Linked DNA regions of Homo sapiens: region 2 is linked to region 1. Evidence: fine-mapped expression QTL. A gene starts in region 1. The other region holds a variant in brackets. All regions are shown on one strand. Distances are between the middles of the regions.

What was found.
Region 2: its variant is fine-mapped to the expression of SLX4IP in whole blood (TOPMed, PIP 0.99).

Annotation. Positions count from the first base shown.
Region 1 is chr20:10,433,511-10,436,425 of GRCh38, reverse strand. SLX4IP (SLX4 interacting protein) reads right to left here and starts at 1,121. Exons shown (of 8, transcript NM_001009608.3): 1 at 973-1,121. It overlaps MKKS (MKKS centrosomal shuttling protein), which reads left to right and starts at 2,204. Exons shown (of 6, transcript NM_170784.3): 1 at 2,204-2,318. LOC128706665 reads left to right here and starts at 2,204. Exons shown (of 3, transcript NM_001394148.2): 1 at 2,204-2,318. LOC128706666 reads left to right here and starts at 2,204. Exons shown (of 3, transcript NM_001394149.2): 1 at 2,204-2,318. RefSeq lists enhancers at 968-1,017, 1,178-1,407, 2,298-2,357.
Region 2 is chr20:10,462,215-10,465,129 of GRCh38, reverse strand. All of the region lies in intron 2 of SLX4IP (SLX4 interacting protein), which reads right to left. Among named protein-coding and RNA genes, the nearest start is that of SLX4IP, 28 kb to the right of the region's middle. The variant T/C (reference allele first, on the strand shown) is at 1,367.

The DNA of each region.
Region 1 (2,915 bases):
AAGATCGCGCCACTGCACTCCAACCTGGGCAACAGAGCGAGACTCCATCTAAAAAAAAAAAGAAAGAAAGAAAGGGCTGTATCTTTAGCCCATGCCCTGAATCAATGTTCCTTGAACTTTAAGGTACACTTCTTGAGGAAGATTCTGATTCAGCAGCTCTGGGGTGAGAGTCATGAAGTGTAATTCTAACAAGCTCCCAGGGATGCTGATGCTGGTGGTAGGTGAAATGAACTTGGAGCAACAAGGCCCTAAGTAACTGGAATATTAGTTTTAACGCTAGCCAACTGGCTTACAAATATCGTTATGTCTAGGATCCAAGAAGTAAGTGTCAATACCATTAATTCCTACACCCGGCCAAAAAAATTAAAAACTAAAAATAAAAAAAAATAGTTCAGGGGAAGGAGAAAGCAAATACTTGTTTATACAGTCTAGCAGTGCTAAGAACCATAAAATACTGTTATTTGTCTCAACCTAGTAGATGTCAAGGTGATAAAATGTAGGCTCCATGAGTTAATGGATTTTTTTTAGCTAACTCCTGAATCCTTATGGCCTAGCACAAATTAGGTACTCAAGAAATGCAATGAATAAATGAATGAATGGGAAGTATATACAAACGCAATCTGTATTTACCTCACATCTCCAAAAATGTCTGGGAAGGGGGAGGTATTTGTACTGCTGGATGCAGGTAGCCATGATTTGATACAAATACCTGGCCCATCTACTGCATTCCCTTTGTGCAAAGACAGTTAACTTTCCTGAATAATATCTCCACCGTAATGCCCATGCTCATGGCATCCTGATGTTTAGCAACTTTTTGGCTTTTTGAAAACAATGAAGAAAGGTGGAAGTACAGGGAGAAGGATTCGGAAAAGTCTCAAAAAATCAAAGCCAAAAACCAGGAGGGAGGAGATGGGCAAACAGTTCAGTTCACTTGAAGGAACATCTGAGGTTGTCAGAGGTCCATGTGCTTACCTATGATGGTGGCGGGGTTTGGGCTCGGGCTTTATATGTTTTGTTACTGTCCAGGGTCACTGGCGGAGTAGTACCTGGCTGTGGAAACTCGGACTACACAGGTAGCCGGAACTGCAGCCAACCTTCAGAAGCTTAAGGGAAGCACTTTCGCGCTTACTTCCTCCTTCCCAGGGTCTCCGCGCGCGTTTGGGAACTCAGCCGCCGCCCAAACACAAAATGATCTGGGCAGCTTCGCTGCAGGATTGAGGCCACAGCCAGGATTTAAGATGGCAGCGAAACACTTCGATGGCCCGTGGAATCTGCCCAAAAGAAAAATGGCCTCTGTTCAGAATATCGCGGCTTTCAAAGTGGGCCCAAAACAAAAATGGCGCCGGACGCAGGCTATTTTTAAAGGCTGGGACCCCAATGACTCTCATTAGCAAATAACGTATCATGGTAACTCACGGTGCTAGGCAGTTGAACTGACCGAGAGAAAAAAAAACGCTTTTCTGTGGTGTGTTTTCTTAACATTGGAAAATGACTAGCTCAAGAATGGAACATATATTCGGTGCGAAAGATTGTGAGAAAGGAAAGGTAGCTTTCACAGTGCCGGATAAATTTTAATAAAAATAGCCATGTTTGAACATAACTTCCTATATGTTTTTTAATGTTAAAAGAGAATAAAAGTTTTGTCCTGGAACCCAGAAGCAGGATGGGGAAATGCCGGGTGAATTATCTAATCTGTGAAGAGTACGAGCTGCGAAACTCCGCACTTCCCTGTAAGCCCTCAGGAAGGACTGAGGGCGGATGCTTTAGTAGAAGGCAACTAGCTCTCACGGCGCATGTCCGTTTTCCAAACCCGATCCCGGGAGTTACGGGAGAGTAAAAATCCTGATTTTCCAGACAACCGCACAGAGAGGCGGGATACTGGCGCTGAGCGACAAATCCAAGCGCTTTGTAATTGGTCATGTCAGGACAGAGAGCAGAGCGCAGTGGACTATTTCTTTCTTTCATTCAATAAATCATTGTCAAGCGCTCACCAAAAGGCAGAAGCTGTGCCATTTTGATATGTTATTTAAATTTTATGCGTTCTTTTAAAATTTCAGTTTCAACAATTTGCTGGAATATACGCTGAATAAACTTCGCTCCCCGTTTTTTCCGGTGACGGCCGCTGTTGGCTGGAGCTTCACGGAAAACCCGGAGAAGCGGAGTGGGGGCGGCCCGGCGTCGACCGCAGAGCTGCGCGTGCTCCGTGCCCTCGCGCGACGCGAAGGTTGTCGGGATCCGCGGCAGCAGCGGCTGCTTGAGATCTGTTTCTGGGGCCTCTGGCGGTGGCGGCCTGGGGCGGCGCGACGGCTGGTGCGCAGGTGAGAGCGCTGGGACTCTAGGTGGAAAAGCCCGCTTTGTGTCCGGCCGAAGAGAGGGGAAGGGGCTTGTAGGCGCCTCCCTCTCCACCCCCAAAGGTCACCGGTGTCCTCACTGAAGGATATTTGAGGGCGGGGACAAGGAGGAGGCTGGCTCTCTGTAGGAGGCGAAAGACCGACCTCTGAAATAGCTGCCGATGGTAAATGTTGCGGTCGGCACGGATGCGGGCGGCGAGGAGGTCTTCCCGCCGGTGGGGAGAGCTGGAGGAGTGGCGCCTCACCACGCTCCCACCTGCGCTGCCGCCTTCTACGCCGAACCTGTGACTCCCCGTCCCCTCCCTCGCTGGGAGGGGCCCCGTGTGCCCCTGACTGTCTGGAGGGTGCACGGTGTACCCCAGGCTGTCGGGAGGTGGGGGCCGCCCTCCGACGGCGTTAGAGACGTTGTGCAGCGTGGCCCTGCCAGCTACGTGAAAGCAGCCGCGGGGCTTGCAGGGCTGTGGACCTTGTAGGGATGACCCTCTAAGGTCATGCTCGTCTTCCTCCCCGATAAGACCATACCCAAATCCTGTTGCCGTTTCAGAGACTCAATATGACGGTTTC
Region 2 (2,915 bases), 29 kb before region 1:
AAGAGTCACTCACTGAAGTACAGGACATACCTCCCTGCTAGAAGCTGCAGTAGCCCAGAAGTCTATAGACCCTGAAAGTTATACTTCCAAGGATTCCTACATCTCATGCACTACTGCCATTTCCTGGAAGTCTGGCCTCAGAAGAGTCTTCAACTCTTGAAAGAGTTCAAGAGCCAGCTGTGCGGTGGCAGTGCCGCCTGTAGTCCCAGCTACGTAGGAGGCCAAGTCGGGAGGACAGTTTGAGCCCAGGAGTTCATGTTCAGCCTGTGCAACATAACGAGATCCTGTCTCTAAAAAATAGTGATTAAAAAAAAGAATTCAAGGCCAGAACCACAGCCCTTAAAAACAAAAAAAAAGTATTCATATGCAGGAAGGTCAGATGGGTAAGTCGTTTGCATGAATAATTAATGCCATTCCAAGGGCAGTCTTAGAATAAACAACCCAGATGAAGTGTCAAACTATTTGGTGTTCATCAATTTTTCTGTTACTTTGAAACCCTGCTCTAACCAAGTACTTTTCAACCCAGTCAAAAGTGGCTGCATCTATGTGAAAAATTTGCATAAGTTAATTAATTCCTTTTAAATGTTATTTATTATTATTGTTTTTAATTTAGAGATGGGGTCTCACTATGTTACTCAGGCTGCTGGTCTCTAACTCCTGGCCTCAAGTGATCCTCCCTCCTGGGCCTTCCAAAATGCAGGGATTACAGATGTGAACCACTGTACGCAGCCTACATTTTATTTATGCACTTAATTTTTATATTAATGCATAGACACATATTAAAACGACATATCAAAGTGAGGTCTCAAGCTGGGTGTAGTGGTGCACATCTGTAGTCCCAGCTACTCAGGAGGCTGAGGCAGGAGGATTGTTTGAGCCCAGTAGTTCAAGATCAGACTGGGCAGCATAAGGAGACCCCATCTTTCAAACAAACAAACAAACAAAAAAACAAAATGGCCTCTTCTGCCTCATCCAGCCCCCTCTCTCACTCCAACTCTCACTCACCATGGGCAACCACACTGAAACTTAGCTTTTTGATCTGGTAATTTGCCAACATATTTCTAAACACTATGTTTATCCTACGAATGTCTTATTATTTCAGTTTTATATACTTTATGTGGAAAATGAAGACTTAATCCTTATACCTGCCCTCCCACATGTTTCCTTCCCCAGCCTTCCAAAACTTGGAGTTCACAATATTATGAAATGTAACCTCTGTTCAAAGCTGAACCATGCAGGAGGATCACTTGAGCCTAGGAGTTCAAGGCCGCAGTGAGTTATGACTGTGCCACTGCATTCCAGCCTGAGCAACAGGGCAAGACCCCATCTCTATAACAAGAAGAACAAAAAGTTGAGCCACGTAGTA[T/C]ACTATGCTTAATTTCCTATCTTGCACAATCTTTTGTTTACTGAGAACTGAGGGTTGCATCATTTTTCTTTTGTTTAGTTTTCTATATTCCTATGACTAAATCATTCCCATGCTACCTGACAGGCCTAAAAAAATCTCTTCTCAATGCATTTAAATACATGATGTATTTTATTCATTTCATTTTTTGTTGAAGAAATCTTTCATGGAACCCTCTGTCTTCTTCCAATAGGACTGGTTACTTTGGTTGCAGTTCAGAAACCAATACCCAGAAATATAACACTTTGACATGCTAAACTAAAAAAGCAGCAGCAAGGTCTCTCTGACCTCCTCCCCTCCTCCTCTCAATCCGTTATCTCTCCCAAAGCACAAGATGAGGCTCTCCGCTGAAGCTCTATTATCTGCCCAGAAACTGGATACCCAAAGAGGAACACAATTGCCTTCCATATTCCCTGAAATTATCTATAGCAGAGAAGACTAAAGAATGCAACCACACAGTGGACAGGCATTTCAACTAGGTATTATCTGCTTCTCGGCTCATTCAAATTCTAAAGAGAATCATTTACAAGTTAATTTCTGTCTCTCGAGTCCATTCATTTCCCCTAAAAATCAGTTACCCCTATATCTCCCAGTTCCCTCTCCCCAACGAAGAGGGTATTAAGGGTCAACCGTCTGGCTCTTTGGGTTTTCTTTTCTTGTTGTTGTTGTTTTTAGAGACAGGGTCTCTCTATGTTGCCCAGGCTGAACTCAAACTCCTGGGCTCAAGCAAATCTTCTGCCTCAGCCTCCCCAAATGGCTGGGACTACAGGCATATGCCATCACATCCAGCTTTTGAGTGTTCATATTTTGTATGACTCCCATGCACTTGTGTGCACATAATAAATTTGTTATGCTTTCCTTAGTTAACTTATTCTTTTGTTACAGGAGTGCTGACTGTGACCCTCCATGATGGGGAAGAAAGGATCATACCCTTTCCACCCTTACACTTTCTAGGCAAAATACACAGTAATCATCAAGGAATTTGGTTAGGCCCTCATCTGACTGGTTCCCTATTTCCTGGATCCCATATCTGATTCTTTCTCTGTTTATTCCCCTATTTTGGAAGACCACATCCTTTCTAAAACAGTGTGCATCAGAAGGGAAGTGTTTTCTACATTCTGCATCCTAAAAATAAATGTCTCTATTCTACCATGTGACTGAAAGTTGGGCTGTAAAGGGAATTCTTGGTTGGAAACCATTTTTCCTAAAATATTAAAGGTATTGTTCTACTGTCTCCTAGTTATTGCTGTTGAGAAGGGTGTTCTGATTCTTGATTCTCTGTCTGTAATCTGTTTGCTTTTTAAGTTCTTCTCTAAATTCCCAGTGTTCTGAAATTTTAGGATGATATACCTTAGCACAACTCTTTTTCATTGACTTTATTGTGTATTCACTCACAGCTCTTTCAAACAGGAAGTTTGTATCCTCCACTTCCAGTAAATTGTATTGCATTATTTCTTTCATAATATTTTCTCAACCATTTGTTTTTCTTTCTAGAACTCCAATTTTTCATATC